3 linked regions of the Homo sapiens genome follow. The protein of the gene in region 3 interacts with the protein of the main gene of each other region in a biochemical or structural test. Each region holds a gene or a part of one and is shown on either strand. Other genes may lie near its edges.

Evidence for each region. The genes of interacting proteins can lie anywhere in the genome.
Region 1: the proteins of TRIP12 (region 3) and UBE4B form a complex in vitro, tested with the Homo sapiens proteins (one study listed by BioGRID).
Region 2: of the proteins of TRIP12 (region 3) and NAE1, one has a biochemical effect on the other in vitro, tested with the Homo sapiens proteins (one study listed by BioGRID).

Annotation. Positions count from the first base shown.
Region 1 is NC_000001.11:10,175,947-10,181,759, reverse strand, and holds the end of UBE4B (ubiquitin conjugation factor E4 B), read right to left. Parts: intron 3,117-5,813; coding exon 2,942-3,116; intron 2,345-2,941; coding exon 2,198-2,344; intron 1,866-2,197; coding exon 1,804-1,865; 3' UTR 521-1,803; downstream 1-520. UniProt on the Homo sapiens protein: Ubiquitin-protein ligase that probably functions as an E3 ligase in conjunction with specific E1 and E2 ligases. May also function as an E4 ligase mediating the assembly of polyubiquitin chains on substrates ubiquitinated by another E3 ubiquitin ligase.
Region 2 is NC_000016.10:66,806,957-66,813,987, reverse strand, and holds part of NAE1 (NEDD8-activating enzyme E1 regulatory subunit), read left to right. Parts: intron 1-141; coding exon 142-201; intron 202-290; coding exon 291-424; intron 425-3,215; coding exon 3,216-3,291; intron 3,292-3,574; coding exon 3,575-3,614; intron 3,615-4,912; coding exon 4,913-4,999; intron 5,000-5,374; coding exon 5,375-5,467; intron 5,468-7,031. UniProt on the Homo sapiens protein: Regulatory subunit of the dimeric UBA3-NAE1 E1 enzyme. E1 activates NEDD8 by first adenylating its C-terminal glycine residue with ATP, thereafter linking this residue to the side chain of the catalytic cysteine, yielding a NEDD8-UBA3 thioester and free AMP.
Region 3 is NC_000002.12:229,764,982-229,772,012, reverse strand, and holds part of TRIP12 (E3 ubiquitin-protein ligase TRIP12), read left to right. Parts: intron 1-380; coding exon 381-494; intron 495-2,687; coding exon 2,688-2,782; intron 2,783-3,293; coding exon 3,294-3,397; intron 3,398-4,262; coding exon 4,263-4,459; 3' UTR 4,460-7,031. UniProt on the Homo sapiens protein: E3 ubiquitin-protein ligase involved in ubiquitin fusion degradation (UFD) pathway and regulation of DNA repair.

The DNA of each region.
Region 1 (5,813 bases), on a different chromosome or scaffold from region 3:
TCGGCTCACTGCAACCTCCACCTCCCAGGTTCAAGCAATTCTCCTGTCTCAGCCTCCCGAGTAGCTGGGACTACAGGCGCTGCCACTACGCCCGGCTAATTTTTTGTATTTTTAGTAGAGATGGGGTTTCACCATGCTGGCCAGGCTGGTCTCGAATTCCTGACGTCAGGTGATCCATCCGCCTCAGCCTCCCAAAGTGCTGGGATTACAGGCGTGAGCCACCGGGCCCGGCCTGAGGAAGAATCTTGAAGGTCAGGGAAGATACTTGAGATAAAGCAGAAGAAACTCAAGAAAGGCAGAAGACTGAATATGACAAAGCTTACCCCCTCAAATCAGCAAACAGTGAAATGAGAACCAAATGTCGAGACTGACATGAATAAGAAAGTTTTCTTTTAAAAATAGCAGCTCCTAATTGGATCCAGGAAAGATCATTCACCACATGCAAACTCACTTGGCTCTTGTTTACCCACCCGCCCTGCCCTTTTTTTTTTTCCACAAAAGAGAAGAGACTCAAAGAAGATTTCTTCTGAACGTGTGTCACCATTTATTGTAGTTTGCGTTAGGAATTGAACAGAGGACATTGTCTGTGGAGGGAAAAAAGGAAAAGAAAAAAGAAAGTATGCTTTTTATAGACTTAATTTCTTCAGAACACTTTATGGTTTCAAATCCTTTTTTTTTTTTTACCCCAAAGGAAATTTGAGAATTCAAGTATGTTAAGTAGGGAGCAGTAATACAAAAAGTCTTATACTTGTGTGCGCGTGTGGCTGTGTTTGTCTGTGTGTGTTGAAACCGGCAGACATACTCCCACATTCTTGCACCCTCTTTTGCTTTGGTAAGGCCAAACACATCACACAAATGACCCTGCCTCAAACTCACACACCCAAGGGTTGAAGAATTGATTTACCCCCAGAGGATAACTGTGAAGGTTTCAAACTGTCACGTAGCATTAAAAAAAAAACCCAACCCTCATCTCCCCAAAATATAAGTCACATAAGTCCTGATACACTTACACCCCTAGATTTTGCTGCAGCTGCTCCTCAGATGCCGAAGAGAGGCTTATCACAAGGACCAGAGCAGCAGGATTTTCTTTATTTTGTTTAGAATAAAAAAATCTTAAAGGGACATTTCAAAAGAAAAAAAAAACTGAAATTCAAATTCTGAAAATATCTTGCCTTTTTTATTAATCATGTCATCTAACACCAATTAAAAAAACAAATATGTGAATATGATATAAAAATACGATCCCAGGATTAACACTTGGTAGCAGGCACAGTTATCTCACAGAATATATGTTTGGAGGGCCAGGGAAAGGAGTTTACTTTTGTTTTTGCTTCTCTTAAAAAAATCCACAGCAGTGCAAGTAGGGTCAGGAAGGGGGAGAGGGGAAAAAAGATTCTTTAGCAGCAAAATGTCCAAGGTTCTCTAATCACAATCAAATCAACGGATATTGGATTAAAAAAAAATTCATGAAGGGATGCTGCCCAGACCCATTAGCCATCACTAAAAGACTTCCGTTGCCCCAAACTGTGACATACGAAGGACATGCTTTATTACACAAGCAACCATAAAACCTGTCCCTTAAGCTTTTGACCGTGTTTGTCACTTAAATATATGTACAGGAAGCGGGCTCCTCTTCTCATCCATGTCCTTTCAGGTCTCAGCGTTTGCTCGCTCTGGGTGGGCCTGGGGTTGGTTTGCCACATTTGGCCTCCAACACATGAACGGCAGCTTCGCTGCGGCCGCTGCTTCTGCTTGCCTCGTTGGCCTTGGCTGTGTCTAGCAGAGGGTGGGCGGCGGAACGGTTTAGTGATCGCTGTTCTGTTTCTCTCTCATCCACGCCTGAATCTGCTCTTTCAGTTCTGGCACTGAGAAAAGAAAAAAAGGAGGATTAATGCCCCAGATGGGAGGGCTCTTCCTGAGAGAGGATGCTTGTCGCTCTGTATAAATGGGAAGAAAAGGCCATTCTTTCCCTCATTGAGCCGAAGACTCCAGAAGGACTGGGACATGAGAGGGAGGGACTGGATGTCTGCAGGGAAAAAGGGCCAAGAGTGTTTTGGGTCTTTGCTACAGAGTGTCATAAAGTAGGTAGTTTCTGCATTTGATAAATTTCCCTTCTGCTTCATCTCCAATATGTGACTTGGGCTTTATCTCTTGGTACTGACGCCAGCGCTGCACCTCAAACTGCACCCTCCTCTACCTGGTTCCAGCATGCTCTCTGTCAGCGTCTGCCGGTTGAAGGGGTCCGTGGGGGAGTTGAGCAGGTGCCGCAGGATGATGGAGCGGTCCATGATGGTGCCAGAGGGCAGCCGCACGGGGTCTGTCATGAGGGTGTCCATCAGAGGGTCTGCGGGGACAAAGCAAAGCAAACTCTAATCTACTGAGAGCCCACGACTGAAAAAGAAAACAAAGCCCGTTCTACCAGCGAAAAATCTATCCAAAGGAACAGCAATCAAAGGGCCCCTGTGAGGCCCCCAGGTTTAGAAGGAAATCAGCCTTCAATAAAGGCATATACATTGCCTTTTGTAAGGGGAAGGCGCTTCTTTGTCAGCTACTGCTGGGGGGAGGGAACAGAGAAGAAAGCCTGGGACAGACCCAGCAGCAGGCCCCACAGGCTCCGTGGCGAGGACGGCAGGCTGGAATTCTTTGTCTTAGGACTTCTGGGAATTCTTTGAAAATGTGAATCCCCACTTGCAAAGGCAGCCCTGCCCTTAGAATCTTCAGGGTTGTTATCTGGCTTTAAGTCAGGCTAAGCTAAGGATGTTTCTTCCTCTCAATTTACAATATGAGCTAAAAATAGGCAAATGTAATTTAAGACAGATTGTCTCAAAAAGCAGCTCTAGCACACCATTAAAAAATTAATTGCACAGGACGTCCTCTTGTAATGTTATCGATTTCCAGTTAACTCAAAAGAAATCAGCATGAAAACGACGAGTCCACTTGCCTCTGAACTCATCAGGAGCGTCGCTGTAGTCGATTTCTGCGCGTGCGTTCTTGGCCACTATCTCCTCCACTTTCTCGGCGAGCAGCTTAAATTTTTCTATTGCTATTGTGGATTTGATCCCTGCCTTCCGCATCTTTGAAATAACTTCTTCAAACAATTCCTTACTGTAGGATCTCTGCAAAGGAGGAATGGCAATGTGAGACGTAAATGTACGTCAGGTGGAAAAAAGCGAGCTGCAGAAAATATCCAAAGTATTATCCATTTGTGGATTTTCCCCCACTAAAAAAGCCCTAAAATTATATATACACTTATATATTTTATATATCCGTCTTTATGCATTTATAGCCTCATAAAAGTATGCACTTTTTATGCTTACAAATGGATAAAGACTGGAATAATATGTGCCAAACTGTACGAGGTCACTCCCTCTGGAGAGGGCTGCAGGACTGAGGCAGACGGGCTTTTTTTTTGAATTTTTACAGCTAGCACGCATTTCTTTTAAAGTTTAAACATTAAAAAGAGAAGGAAATCTAGTCTATTTCAGTCCTTGGGGGGCACTGTGCCCTGGCAGCCTATAAGAAAGAAGAGGTGAAAATTTCAGCTCTCTTCCACAAAGGTAAGCATGGTAAAAACAATCCACTATTGTTCATACTCTAGAGGAGCCTTCTCCTGTTCACTTTCAAGCTTCTTCAAGCTCATTTAGTTCAGCACTAGCACATGTCAGGGGCTCCATGGACGTTAGACCACCCTGGTGAACTGATGAATAGGCCTGGGAACAGACACGATTTATGTCCCCAGGAAGGGAAGTTGTGGAGTGGAGGTCAGGCGCCCACCGTGGACCCAGACAAATCTGAACTTGAATTCTGGCTCTACCACCTACCAGCTGTGCAGTCGTAGGCAAATCTGAACCCTCCTAAGCCCAGGTTCTTTGAGTGTAAAATGGGCAGAGTAACATCTACCTCACAGGTGCCTAATTCATAAAAATCACTGCCATGCCAAACAGTAAAGTATGCTGTAGTTTGTATTTATAGTAAAACATATATGGCAAAAACACTGGCCACTTGCTTAGTGATGATATATATTTGTATTTGTATCACCATCGCAAAACAAGTGGCCAGTGTTTTTGCCATATATGTTTTACTATAAATATATATATATATTTTGAGACAGAGTCTCATTCTGTCACTCAGGCTGGAGTGCAGTGGTGCAATCATGGCTCACTGCAGCCTCAAACTCCTGGGCTCAAGCAATCCTCTCACCTTAGCCACCCAAGTAGCTGGGACTACAGGTGCATGCCACTATGCCCAGTTAATTTTAATTTTAATTTTTGAGACGGAGTCTCGCTTTGTCACCCAGGCTGGAGTGCAGAGGCACGCTCTCGGCTCACTGAAGCCTCCACCTCCTGAGTAGCTGGGATTTCAGGTGTGCGCCACCACGGCTGGCTAATTTTTTTGTATTTTTAGTAGAGACAGGGTTTTGCCATGTTGGCCAGGCTGGTCTCGATCTCCTGACCTCAAGTGATCTGCCCACCTTGGCCTCCCAAAGTGGTGGGATTACAGGCGTGAGCCACTGTGCTCGGCCTAAACCTCTTTTCTTCATAAAGTACCTAGCCTTGGGTATTTCTGTATAGTGATGCAATGGACTAACACAAGAATATCTGCAAATCATATATCCAATGATACATGTATCATCTGATATGACCTAGCATCCAGAATACATAAAGAACTCTTCTGGTTGGGCGCGGTGGCTCACGCCTGTAATCCCAGCACTTTGGGAGGCCAAGGCAGGCAGATCATGAGGTCAGGAGATCGAGACCATCCTGGCTAACATGGTGAAACCCCGTCTCTACTAAAAATACAAAAAAAATTAGCCAGGCGTGATGGTGCACGCCTGTAGTCCCAGCTATTTGGGAGGCTGAGGCAAGAGAATTGCTTGAATCTGGGAGGTGGAGGTTGCAGTAGGCTGAGATCGCACCACTGCACTCCAGCCTGGGCAACAGAGGGAGACTCCATCTCAAAAAAAAAAAAAAAAAAAGAAAAAGAAAAAAAGAACTCTTCCAACTCAACAACAAAAACACAAACAACCCAATTAAAAAATGGGCAAAGAACATGAATAGACATTGCTCCCAAGAAAATATAAAAATGGCCAGCAAGCACATGAAAAGGTGTCCAATGGTATTTGACATTAGGGAAATACAAATCAAAACCGCAATGAAATACCACGTCACTCCCACTAGGATGAGTATTTAAGAAACAAAAACAAATTAACATGTTTAATTTTTAAACTTCATGATGGAAAGAATATAAACTAAACCAAAGAAAAAAAATGAAAAAGAATGGAAACTTAAACCTTATACATTGCCAGTGGGAATGTCAAATGGGCGGCAGCTGTAGAAAACATTCTGGCATCCCTCAAAAAGTTAAACATGGAATTACCACATGACCAACAATCCCACTCCCAAGTGTAGACCCAAAGTAACTGAAAACAGGTGTTTAAATACTTTTACACAAATGTTCATAGCAGCACTATTTGCAAGAGCCAAAGGCTGGAGACAACCCAAATGTCTATCAATGGATGAGGATAAACAAATGGTGGTATATCCATACAATGAAATATTATTCAGCCTTAAAAAGGAATGAAATACTGATACATTCTACAACACAAATGAACCTTGAAACATGATGCTAAGTGAAGGAAGCCAGACATAGAAGGTTACACACTGTATAAGTCCGTTTATATGAAATATCCCGGAGAGGTGAATAGGTAAATCCAAAAATAGGAAAAGAGAGACAGCAGATTTGTGGTTGCCAGGGGCTGGGGCAAGGGGGTCTAGACAGCGACTGCTTTAAGGGTTTTCCTTTTGGGGTGATAC
Region 2 (7,031 bases), on a different chromosome or scaffold from region 3:
ATAAAATTATAAACCAATCAGAAGTTTGTATTTGATTACAATTTGAGAATTCAAAGAACATATCTGAAGAAATAGCACTGAAAATAAAGATGGGCGAATTCTTAATACTGTGTAAGTAAATGTTTCATGTTCCTTTGTTAGATCCCAAGCAGTATTGAAGATATATTTAATGATGATCGCTGCATAAATATCACCAAACAGGTAACAACAACAAAAGTAAAAACATTGCTGCTAAAACTTTGGGTCAAAGTAAAACGCCACTTAATGTTAATTTTTTCTTATTCTTTTAGACTCCATCATTTTGGATTTTAGCTCGTGCCTTAAAGGAATTTGTGGCCAAAGAGGGTCAAGGAAATTTACCTGTTCGAGGCACAATTCCTGATATGATTGCAGATTCAGGCAAATATATAAAACTGCAAAACGTGTATGTCACTGTTTTCAAACTATGTAATAGAAAAAGTCTGATTATATTAGAGATAAACATTTTATCATCCTGTCAGAAATCAAATGAAAGTTTATTACAACCTCATTGCTTATAAATAAACTAGGCCAGCTGCAGTGGCTCATGCCTGTAATCCCAACACTTTGGGAGGCCAAGGTGGGAGAATTGCTTGAGTCCAGGAGTTTGAGACCATCGTGGGCAACATAGTGAGACTTCCATCTCTACAAATTGAAAAATTAGGTGGGCATGGTAGTGTTCGCCTTTAATCTCAACTACTCAGGAGGCTGAGGCAGAAGGATCTCTTGAGCTCAGGAGTTTGAGGCTGCAGTGAGCCATGATCATGCCACTTCACTTCAGCCTGGGTGACAGAGCAAGACCCTGTTTCAAATAAATAAGTAAAAATAAGCTGAAGAACTTAGACCAGGCTGGGCGCAGTGGCTCACACCTGTAATCCCAGCGCTTTGGGAGGCCGAGGCAGGCGGATCACGAGGTCAGGAGATTGAGACCATCCTGACTAACACGGTGAAACCCTGTCTCTACTAAAAATACAAAAAAATTAGCCGGGCGTGGTGGCAGGCGCCTGTAGTCCCAGCTACCCGGGAGGCTGAGGCAGGAGAATAGCGTGAACCCGGGAGGCGGAGCTTGCAGTGAGCGGAGATCGCACCACTGCACTCCAGCCTGGGCGACAGAGTGAGACTCTGTCTCAAAAAAAAAAAAAAAGAACTTAGGCCGGGCGTGGTGGCTCACGCCTGTAATCCCACCACTTCGGGAGGCCGAGACGGGTGGATCACAAGGTCAGAAGATCAAGACCATCCTGGCCAACATGGTGAAACCCTGTCTCTACTAAAAAAATACAAAAAATTAGCCAGGTGTGGTGGTGCGCACCTGTAGTCCCAGCTATTCGGGAGGCTGAGGCAGGGGAATCGCTTGAACCCAGGAGACGGAGGTTGCAGTGAGCCAAGATCGTGCCACTGCACTCCAGCCTGGAGACAGAGCAAGAGTCCGTCTCAAAAAAAAAAAAAAAAAAAAAAAGAACTTAGGGGGCAATTCTTGTTAAGCTCAAAGCAAAATTGAATGGGAAATACAGAATTACCACATACGCCTAGGAGGCAGAGTTTTTTTTCATACTTCATGATAAACTTAATATTTGATCCCTTAACTCTGTGCTATGAACTATATGTATTAAGTAATTTAACACACACACAAGGTTCACAACGACCTTATGAGAGAGAGAGAGACTGTTACCGGCCCCATTTTACACATGAAGAAACTAAGGTATTGAAAAGGTTACTTATACAAGGTCAGATAGCTGGTAAATGGCAGAACCAAGATTTGAACCCCAGGAAACCCAGTACCAGAGCCTGTATGCTTAGCTATGGCCCTATACTACCTTGTATTTGTAACTTAAAACCATGAAGGTTTGATGAATTTTTTATCTTAATGTTTCATAAGTTATAGTCTATGACTATAGCTAGACATCTTGCTATCCAGGTATCACTAGCCTGAACCCAGATAGACTATCACAGGGATGGGTCTCAATGAATATGACCCTCGTATAGTTAGGGCATGGTGCAAAGAATCCAGGTCTGCTGGCTCGGTTTCTTTGGGGTCCAAGTAATGTCACACAGAGATGATCTCTCTTCCCCAGACAGATTTCACTCTTTATCATGTCACCATTGAACGAATCTTGGTTTGTTGTCCTAGCCTAAGAGTTCAACTACTTAAAACTTGGGGAAGGTCAATTGAGGATAGAAAGAAGTATGACCTTACATGGGAGGTAGTCAGCCTGAACACTGATGATTTTTAGAGGGTGAAAGGTAAATAGACGTAAAGAAAACTTTTATGGCCGGATGCAGTGGCTCACACCTGTATTCCCAGCACTTTGGGAGGCCAAAGCGGGTGGTGAAATGTGCCACAAGGGATGTTCACAGTTGTTTTAAATGGTTGAAATTTTACGTTTTCCATGGTCTGTCTCAGTGGTATAGATACAGATAATAATTGGGTAAGGGTTTTTTTTTCCTCTCATAATAAATACAGAGTATTTTAAAACAATCAGAGGTAGAGCATGTTTATCTATGGCAATGCTAAAAAGGTATGAAGGTCAGTTAATTGAAAATTGTCATTAATACAGTATTTTCAGTTTCTAAATCACTTGAACCCAGGAGTTCAAGACCAGCCTGGGCAACATGGTGAAACTCCGTCTCTACAAAAAAGACAAAAATTAGTCGGGCATGGTAGCGTGTGCCTGAATTCCCAGCTACTTGGGAAGCTGAGGTGGGAGGATCAGTTGAGCGTGGGAAGTTGAGGCTGCAGTGAGCCAGGACTGCGCCACTGTACTCCAGCCTGGGTGGCAGAGCGAGATCCTGTCTCAAAAAACAAAGAAGTTTTACATTGGAGATGAACAGTTTTAATGTATTTAACTTTCCTTGGACTTGACTTCCAGGAGATAAGTCATGTTCTTCAGTAATGTATTTTTTCAGGTCCTCTGTCACAGAAGCCGAAATCATAGATCCCTCTAGGGGAGCAGTTTTTAAGTTGGGTGCTGTTAGAGGGACCCTGGGTTTTAGTGGGCACTGAGAGTCCGTCACTAACACTGGAAAGATTCCCAGCTACTCATGGTGCTGTTGATAGCATTTCCCTGGCATTTTCACATTTCATACATTGTCAGACCTGTGTTTTTTCATGAAAAGGAAAGAAAATTTTTGTTCATGGTAACAATTTAAATTTTGCTAATTTAAAAATTTGTTAGTAATTGCTTTTTATTCTTTTTTAGTTACCGTGAAAAAGCAAAGAAAGATGCTGCCGCTGTGGGTAATCATGTTGCCAAATTGCTGCAGTCCATTGGCCAGGTAAGCTACTGGGCACACTGTGCCCATACAGGCCTCAGCACGTAACTCCAGCCAGAAAGGGTTTAGAGACAGAGGGTGTGGCACTGCCTCTGTGCTTCTTTAGAGGGAGCTGTCATTTCCCTGCCTAATGGGATAGCTTGTGATAAGGAAACAAGATATTTTTAAAGTGCTCTCCCAGCTCTTGGAGAAAGCCTTCCCATCTCACAGTGATTGGCTTTGTGCCGCACCCTTTGTTAATCTTCTCTTTTAAACTGGAACAGAATCTGTATTTATCTCTTTACAGGCACCAGAGTCCATTTCAGAGAAAGAATTAAAATTACTCTGTAAGTCCCCTTGAATTAATTTCCTTATTTTGCTTGATAGAAATGTGCCACAGGGAATGTTCCCAGGTATTTTGAATGGTTGAAATTTTAAGTTTTCCATGGCCTCAGTGATATAGATATAGATAATTATTGGGTAAGGTTTTTTTTTTCCTCTCATAATACAATACATGGCGAGTATTTTAAGACTGAATCAGAGGTAGAACATGTTTATCTGTGGCAATGCTAAAAAGGCTTGACGGTCAGTTAATTGAAAATTGCCATTAATACAGGATTTTCAGTTTTTAAATTTTAAGTAATTTAGGAAGTTTTTTTGTCTGAAGACTTTGGGTGTGAAGTCTTGAGTCACATGTACATTGACAATATTGGTTTAAATACTCATTTTGATCTGTGTTAAATGACTGTAATGGAGTTAAGAATTTTGCCATCTAGTTTCGGAGTGGTTAGGTTCGTAGGAGTCTTCTCAGTAACTCCTCAGTAGGCCAAAAGCATTTTCTTTTATTTAAGAGTCAGTTTCAAAATACCCAATCTGTTGTGCATGCCATCTGAAGATTTCTCCCTGTAGCTACTGCTCCTACGTCCTGTGGAAGTTTATATTTTGCATGCTCCCCATCCTTAAAATAGATTTATCCAAGCTTTCCATTTTATGACTTCTCCACAATGTCTGTTTAGGCTCGGTTTTAATGTTTTCTGCCACTACTAATCTTGCACCTTGTTTGTTCTATTAGACTAATCTTGAATTAGCGTTTGTTGTATTAGATTATATAATACTAGATCACAAGTTTGATGCTGGGTATTTGAACATTTATTATTCTGTTCTACTTTGGGGCGTTTTTGAAAATTTCAATAATACAAAGCTTAAAGTCATTACATATATCAAGAGTACAATTCATAAACCTCTCTCCTTTAGGACTACTTATCCATAATAATGATGAAAACTATTATTTTTAGAGCCATATCAGGCATTGTGCTAGAGATGCACTTTATACAGATGTCACATTTAATCTGTAGAACAATTCTCAAAGGTAAACAGTATCATCCCCATTTTACACTTGAAAACTGAGGTTCAGAGAGGCCATCACCTTACTTGCTTCTGAACTGGTTGTAGTGCCAGGGATATAAATTTAAGGTGATTCATGTTCTAGTGCTTTCTCTGCTATTAGAACCAAGGAGAAAACATTTCTTCACATTCTCATGTCTGAGAAGGGTATACACATAATTCTCTGTTCTTAAAGTCACCTGTGATTCATAATATTCACCAGTCACAGTCATTACTTCCAGAATATCTTTCCTCTGTTCAGGCAGCAATTCTGCATTTCTTCGAGTGGTAAGATGTCGATCCTTAGCTGAAGAATATGGTTTGGATACAATTAACAAGGATGAAATTAGTAAGTATAATAGCCTTCTGATTCTGGGTTAATTTTAATTAATTTAAAAGATATAAATATTTTGTGTATAATAGTGTTGAGTATATGGTGATGATATTAAAGATAACGTAAACATATTCTAATTTTATTCTAAGCTTATCTAGGTAATTATAATTTATATATTATATGAAACTTAATGTATGCATAAAGTCATATTTAGGTCACTGAGTCCATTGTGTGATATGTATGAGTTAAAGTCAGTATGTTACTACTTCAGTAGAGATTGTGTGACTCCAGTTAATAGTCCTGAAACTCAAGTATATAGTAAATTCAGCCCTTCATTGTTTGTTACATTGCAAATTAACCAAATTAAACTGAAATTTTTTTTCCTTTCAGTTTCTAGCATGGACAATCCAGATAATGAAATAGTGTTGTACTTAATGTTACGGGCTGTTGATAGATTTCATAAACAACAGGGTAGATATCCAGGTAAGAATAGCAATTGAATTACCAGATATAATAAGATCTTCAATAAAACATTTAAATTGAAAGTGTTCTCAGGGTATTTATAATAGTGTTGCTTGAATTTCACATTGTAAACAGATTACACCCCAAACGTTCCCCAGTGAAGAACCACCTTTTGTTTTTTAAGTTTAACTATTTGCAAAATAGTGTTCGATTCTAAACTATTACAGGGGGATGTTGGTTGAATATGTATAGAAGAAAACTTTTTTCTGTCATTTTCCATAGTTTGTTACTAAGACTCACACTGAGTTTAATTTAGTGGAATAGGAAAGCCACAAGAAATATGCTGGCCAGGCATAGTACGGTGGCTCACGTCTGTAATGCCAGCACTTTGGGAGACTGATTCAGGCAGATTGCTTGAGCCCAGGAGTTGGAGACCAGCGTGGGCAACATGGTGGAACCCCATCTCTACTGAAGATACAAAAAATTAGCCAGACATGGTGGTGTGCACTTGTAGACTCAGCTACTCGGGAGGATCACCTGAGCCTGGGAAGTTGGGGCTACAGTGAGTTGTGATTGTGCCACTAAACTCCAGCCTGGGTGACTGTGGTGAGACTGTCTCAAAAAAAAAAAAAAGTATGCTACTAATTTCTGAACTCAATAACTCTGAAGATGTAGGAATTTCTTTGTTTAGTTATCTACTTTTTATCTTCAGCAAATGTAGTCATTGGAGAATTGGCATAATCTCAAAGATCTGAGGTTGCTCAGAATATTTTTCTTTGGGATGATAATTTTAATTGTGCAGGATTATTGCATAGCAACACATTCTAGGGGTATCATAAAACCTGCTGCTCCATCTGATACAGTGTGTCTCCAGAGTTTATAGTCTTTTTTTTTTTTCTTTTGAGACGGAGTCTCGCTCTGTCGCCCAGGCTGGAGTGCAGTGGCGTGATCTCAGCTCACTGCAACCTCCGCCTCCTGGGTTTAAGCAGTTTTCCTGCCTCAGCCTCCCGAGTAGCTGGGACTATAGGCGCCCGCCACCTCGCCCAGCTAATTTTTGTATTTTTAGTAGAAACAGGGTTTCTCCGTGTTGGCCAGGCTGGTCTCGAACTCCTGACCTCAAGTGATCCTCCTGTGTTGGCCTCCCAAAGTGCAGGGATTACACGCATGAGCCACTGCGCTGCCCAGAGTTTATAGTCCTAACAAGCAAGCTTACTAGAAGAAAAAAAAAGAATAAACACCAAATATGTATTGCTTTATTTGTATTATTTGATTAGTATTTATTTCAGTTATCTGTTGCATAACAAACCACTTCAAAACTTAGTGGTTTAAAACAATAAATAGTGTCGTGATTTTGTGGGTTGCCTGGTCTCAGGCAGTTCTCCTTGGGGAGGCATGCAGTTGCTTGAGCCTGGGGGTGGAGTCATTCTGAAGGCTTGACTGACTGAGTTAGACATGCAAGAAGACATTTTTACTCATGTAACTAGCACCTTAGTCAGAACAGTGGGAATAGCTGGCGGCTGGTCAGGTATCTCTTCACGTGGCTAGCTTGGACTTCCTTTTGGCATGTCAGTTGGCTTCTGCAGTT
Region 3 (7,031 bases):
GGCTAATTGTGATTCTTCAAACATTACCTTTAATTCTCAATAACATTTTATCCTCTTGGGAAATTCTCATTTGATTCCCATCCAGTGAGGTAATATAACTGTATGGCATGGGTTTCACATAAATAGATTTTTAAAACACACTAAATGTAAATGCACATGGCATTTTTTTTTTACATTTTGTTATTGGTAGGGGCCCCACATTAGATGTTGACCTGATGTTTTACTCATGTAGTTTTCTAGCAGATTATTTTAAAGTCTTAATAACTTGTTTGTTCTTTATAAAGTGATCCAGAAGGGTGTTTCACTGTACTTTGCCACATATTAAATAGTAAAGAGATTTGAAATCTTGTCACAGTTTTTTGAAAACTTTCTTTTTGCAGCTGGTTATATTCTGGGCACTAAATGAAGGCGTTTCTAGGCAATTTGATTCGTTCAGAGATGGATTTGAATCAGTCTTCCCACTCAGTCATCTTCAGTACTTCTACCCGGAGGAAGTGAGTAGCTTATATCTAAAAGAAATGGTCATACCTATAATTTTAGTGGAGTGTTTCTGTGCTGCCTAGTCAAAGACCGTATTGTTGCACAAAAACAAAAAAATGGGTGTTAGATAGCAGGGGATGGATGTTTGGGAAAGACAAGGAAATTGCCTGAGCAAGGAAGAATGTTAAATAGGTGTCCCCTCTTAGATTGGGGAGCGGGTTCCACGCGTGACAGTAAGCATAGCATCTTTGTCAGCCAAGACCCTCAATGCCATTCAGTGGAGAATGGGGACTTGTGCTGTGTGTGGCATGTTCTACATGTTTCTGTACTGCTGTGGAAGCAAAGAGAGACATGGAGGGGGCTTGACTTTATTCCTTAACTAAACTTCGTTTCGATGAGACATTGTTTCACAATCAAAGTTAGTCCTTGAAGTTTTAAGAAAGTATTATAAATTATCTAATTGCCAAATACAGAGAATACTTCTGAGAATGGAAGAAATGGATTTATGTGCTTGGTTTTCTCTAGCCGCCTGTATTAGTCTGTTTTCATGCTGCTGATAAAGACATAACCGAGACTGGGCAATTTACAAAAGAAAGAGGTTTATTAGACTTAGAGTTCCACGTGGCTGGGGAGGCCTCACAATCATGGTGGAAGGTGAAAGGCACATCTCACATGGCAGCAGACAAGACGAGAGCTTGTGCGGGGAAACTCCCCTTTTTGAAACCATCAGATCTCGTGAGACATATTCACTATTATGAGAATAGCCTGGGAAAGACCTGCCCCCATGATTCAGTTACCTCCCACCAGGTCATTCCCACAGCAGGTGGGAATTGTGGGAGTTACAGTTCAAGATGAGATTTGGGGTAGGGGCACAGCCAAACCATATTACCGTCTTTAATTTCAAGTGCCAAATCTCAAAAGAACTACTCACTGGTAGTGAGATACAGAAAGCCTCTAGAATGTGTCCAGTTTCCCTCAGTTTTGAAACCTTTTTATTTATTGTTTGAATACTAGTTTTAGAGTGTATGTTCACTACTGATTAAATCTATAAATTTTTGATTAACTTAACGTCTTAATCTCAGTTATATTTGTGTCTACTTAAGCATGTAGTGTGCCTGATACTTGTAGGCACTGCTTGTCACCTGGAATAGAATCATGGTCCTCACCACTTGCTGTATAACCTTATCCAAGTTACTGTATCTGATAGGACTGTTTCATCTGTAAAATTGGAATAACCCCTATCACAGAGTAATGGAAATTAAATAGGCTGGGCACAGTGACTTAGCCTATAATCCCAGCACTTTGGGAGATGGAGGTGGGAAGATCACTTGAGCTCGGAAATTTAAGATTAGGCTGGGCAACATAGTGAGACCTTGTCTAAAATAAAAAAAATAATTAGCTGGGCGTGGTGGTATGCACCTGTAGTCTCAGCTACTTGGAAGGCTGAGGTTGGAGGATCACTTGAGCCCAGGAGATCATGACGGGAGTGAGCTGTGATTAGGCCACTACACTCCAGCCTGGGCAACAGAGCAAAGCTTTGTCTTTAAATATATAGGACCAGACAGTGAGCATTATATAATAGATATTAAATTTCATTGGCCTCAAATTGGATTTTCTCAAAGTATAAGGACATGAAAGCATTTATTGCTTTCTAATATTCATTCTATAATATCTGGGTTGGTCCCCATACAACCAACCATGTAGCGTAGACATGCCTCTCTACAAAGTGTAAAGACCTACCCATTTGCTGTGTCCTAGTTCAGCTTGCTTCTCCCACTTCTTTCTCCAGCTCAATGTTCTCTCCCTTGGCATCTGTTACTGTATACCTTTGTGTTTCTGAAAGCCAGGATTTATAAAATCTCCCTGACTAGAAGCAGATTATCCATTTAAAGCACCTAAAGTAATGAGAAGAAAGGAAAACTGAAATCAAGGGTCATCAGGTGTTTTTGGTTTGAGAGGAAGGGTTTCTCAGGAACCAAGTCCCTGCAGATGGGCAGGGTACTTAATAGCGTACAGCTAAAAAGGAAATGGAATCTCTAAATTTTATTTTATTTTATTATTATTTTTTTTTTTTTGGAAAGAGGTCCCAAGCAGAAGGTTTTAGTACTGAGACTGATACTCTTTTATGGTACACGTAGACCTTTATTTTCACTCACGTAAACAAATGTTTCCTTAGTAATTCTTTTTACCCTTATTTAAACTCACAGCTGGATCAGCTCCTTTGTGGCAGTAAAGCAGACACTTGGGATGCAAAGACACTGATGGAATGCTGTAGGCCTGATCATGGTTATACTCATGACAGGTAAGTACTGGGGTCTGCCAGTTTTTCTGTTGATTCTGAAGAATGTGGAGAGGGGTGTGTGTGTACACACACATGCGCACATGTGTAAACAACAAAAGTTGGAGTGGTTCATTTTAAAATGTGTCTACCTGTTAATGGATGCTTACTTCTGTTTTGGCCTTATTTCTCTGAAGATGGGAAATTAAGACCCAAGGGTTTCTTTCTCAAGTATTTCTGTGAAAATACTAGGGGTTGGGGAAGACAGATTTAATCTTGTTCCCCATTATTACATATAGTAAAGCAGAAATATCTGTACAGTACCAGATCAAGTCTTACTTATTACAACTGTAATCATTCCATTTGAATTCTAGTCTAGTCATAACAGAAACGAATTTAAGTACATTGTAATGGAAAATGTATGTGTAATTTAAAAGTGCTAATCTAATTTTTATGTCATGTGATGCGATGCAGTGTGATTAAAACTCTATTTTAACCTGATGAAATAATTTTGGTATATTTATTTCTGTTATAGTCGGGCTGTGAAGTTTTTGTTTGAGATTCTCAGTAGTTTTGATAATGAGCAGCAGAGGTTATTTCTCCAGTTTGTGACTGGTAGCCCAAGATTGCCTGTTGGAGGTGGGTACGATGTTGATGTTTAGCATTTATTCTACCTATGGGTGGGTTTGTGAGTGTGAAACTTCAGTACCATCAGCAGGAGATTCTTTATCTCACTTGCAGTGCCTCTTAGTTATTCCAGTATCATTATAGTACATTGAGACCACTAGCAGGGAAATCCATGGGGATTGTCTTAAACATATTGAAGTAGGATTACTAATGCACATGTAATGCTGGTTAGATAAAATTCCAGGCCATTTGTACATTCTAAACTCTTAGTTGACTTAGATGAGAATGGATTCTAAAATCTGGTTTTTCAGATTGAATCCTAATGTAAGTTAAATTGGTATTCTGTTGTTTTTGTTTTGTTTTTTGAGACAGGATCTCACTCTTGTCACCCAGGCTGAAGTGCAGTGGCGTGATCTTGGCTCACTGCAACCTCTGCCTCCTGGGCTCAGGCGAGATCCTCCTGCTTCAGCCTCCTGTGTAGCTGGGACTACAGGCACAACACAGCACCATGTCTGGCTAATTTTTGTATTTTTGTAGAGATAGGGTTTCTCCATGTTTCCCAGGCTGGTCTGAAACTCTCAAGCGACTGGCTCACCTCGGCCTCCCAGAGTGCTGGGATTACGGGCGTGAACCACTGTGGGTATTCCATTTTAAAAATCAGAAGACATAAAGAACTGTTGCCTCCATGTTATACAGCGAGTTTTTAAATGATAAATTAAAGCAGGTTCCTTGCACTTAATGTATATTGAATGTGCAATTGCCAAGCAAGAAAGAATATCTTGTGTGTAATATTGTACGGCAAAGCAGTGGAATGTTTTCTGATAGCTGATGTTTTTTAAAAACTTAAGTTCCTTGTCTTTCTTTTTCTCTTAATCAGGATTCCGGAGTTTGAATCCACCTTTGACAATTGTCCGAAAGACGTTTGAATCAACAGAAAACCCAGATGACTTCTTGCCCTCTGTAATGACTTGTGTGAACTATCTTAAGTTGCCGGACTATTCAAGCATTGAGATAATGCGTGAAAAACTGTTGATAGCAGCAAGAGAAGGGCAGCAGTCGTTCCATCTTTCCTGATCATAGCAAGAAATGCAGTGTCTGCCTGTTACAGCAAAAGAAACAAATCATGATTTCTTTTCTAATGTTATCACCTGAGTCAAGGAAACATGTTACGCCTTCTTGTTGTAGGAAAAACGGCTTGCAGATTATAAAGAGACATTTGGTTGATATTCATTAATGGCCCCATGGACTTAAAGTGATCAGGCCCTAAAACGTTGTTGTGATGAGGTTTCTTTAGCAAGTTCTTGTTTAAATTATCATTTATTTGATGAGTGAAGTTTTTAACATGCTTTGCTGTGTGAAATTTAAAAAAGGGATGTTTTTCCAGGCTGGAACAATAAATGTGGCTGTGCAGTTTAATTCTGGGCTGTGTGTATCCATCTAGCTAAGTCTGCAGTTTTCTTTCCTCCAAAGACAACTCTTGTACATAAGTACAGAAATTTAAGCTCACATGTATTTGACAAATATAGTTTAGTAGACTAGCTCTATGTGCTTTTCACTTTCCTCTGATTTTCTCTCCCTGATTCATTATTATCTGTGCAGCTCACAGTTTTTTTTTTGTATACAACTCACAGTTCTCAAATTTTCGTTACCCATGGGCTTCTGTTGTCCCATGTTCTCTCCAGTTAAGATCTAATTTAAAATTCATTGGATTGAAATTTATTGAATATAATTCAGCTTTTGTAACTAGGTAGACTTTTCTTATAGTTTAGTTTTAATATAGTTTAGGGTATTACTGGCTTTTTCCCAGGTGACACACTAAGGACTGTTTACATGGCAATTCCAGCAGCAACAGCCTCTGGAATGAGACAAGGAAAGCTCATTTGTTTCTTTTATGAAGGTTAAGAAGTCTACAGCTTGGGCTGGCCGGTATTTATTATTCTGTGGCCAGAGGATTTTAAATTAATGTAAATTTTTTAAACAAAATAAGCAGTTTTCCTTCCCTGTTGGAGTAAAAAAATTTTTTTCCCTTTGTTGTTTTACGTTTTTGTTCATAGTCTTCTTTATTCCACGCTCCTCTTCCCCTTCTCCCAGTGCTGACTTGGGACAAAACAGTTCAGCCTTTGTCTCGACGCAGATAAAAGCACCTGTAAGCAATGCTGTCCAGTCATTTTATGTGCTGATTTCTCAAATCTGCAATAATCCATCAGGTTAATGTTTTTACCTGAAAATAAAGAAAGTTTGCTTCACCTTTTTGTTTATAGTTTTGTGCTGTATGCATAACTTTCAATTGTATAGATGTATTTCAATGCAAGGAAATCCACATATCTCCATGATTCGGGTCATGGCTGATTTTGCTATTCAAACAATTTATAATAGCAACTTGAAGAAACTAAAATGTGAAGAGAAAATGGGAGGAGATTCCTTCCTAAGGTCCAAAACTAGGCCTGTGGCATAAATTTGAAGGAATTTTCCATAATTCATCTCCTTGAAAATAAGAGATGAGCTAGTTTTTTTTTTTAATTGAACTTTGAGAAATCAATTTTTTTGACTGTTCTGTAAGTTTTAATTAATTGACACAAAAGCCCTTTTCCCTATCCCACCACCCAAAAGAAACTCAGTGGCTTGTTTGACATAGATTGCTGTGTCAATTTACACTTAAATGGCCTTATATGGAAATGTCCCCTCCTGAGAGTTCACTTGGGCAGTGACCCCATTAAGTGGAAGGGAACTGTCAGAGGAGTTGGGGGCAGAGAATTCTCTCCCTGTCTCTGCAGAGACTGACAAGTGAATGGCTTTTCCCTGAAATCCAAGAAGGGAATTGTGTTTCTGCAGTTTTCACCACTAACAGCACAGTTGCTGAGCAGCTTCATCAAGTGAAGTTAAAGACTGAAACAATTTGTTTTCAACTGTTCTGATATCTTCCTGCAAATTAAGCACAAGGATTTTTGTGTGAACATAGCATTTTGTTCCTGATTTTTAAAGGGTTCTGTTAAAATTTAGACATGTATAAACAAAATAATGTTTCATCTGTACTTGACATTTTATCCATGTTGCAGCCCTGGCAAATTTGGCCTCATTGATTCCAGCATCTAATAAGTATATATGATGATTTTGACTCAAACTCTAAAGTCTTGAGTGTTTCAAAGTCAGTCGTTACCTGTTTAAAAGCCTCAGCCTTTAGCTTATTCCTCCTTCAATACACGGGACCTTTGGTTAATTTGGGGCAGGAAAACTCTTAAAGTAATCTCTCTTGGCAGAGGCCTTATTGCACCAGAGGGAAAAAGTATATACTTCATTTGCTGTTACTCCAGTTATGCCTTAAATTCATTTGCTTGGTAATCCTATCAACGAGCACTAACTTCTTAGTATACTTTAAACACTTAGTTGGGTAACAACTGAGATTTTGTTGTCCTTTATTTTTTGCTGAGATGGAGTCAGTCAGATGTTAGTCATAGCTAACACCGAATTTGTGTTGTCATTTAGACAGTTACTGATTCGATCTGCTTTATATATGAGAACGTATTTTTAACTATTCCAAGAAGGAAGAGGTAGCTAAATGTAATCCCCTCTTCCTATCCCCCCAGAAAACTGAACTGTAAGTTCTAGGTAGACTAATTGGGAGCAGACACGGAGTTTTAGATGCCTT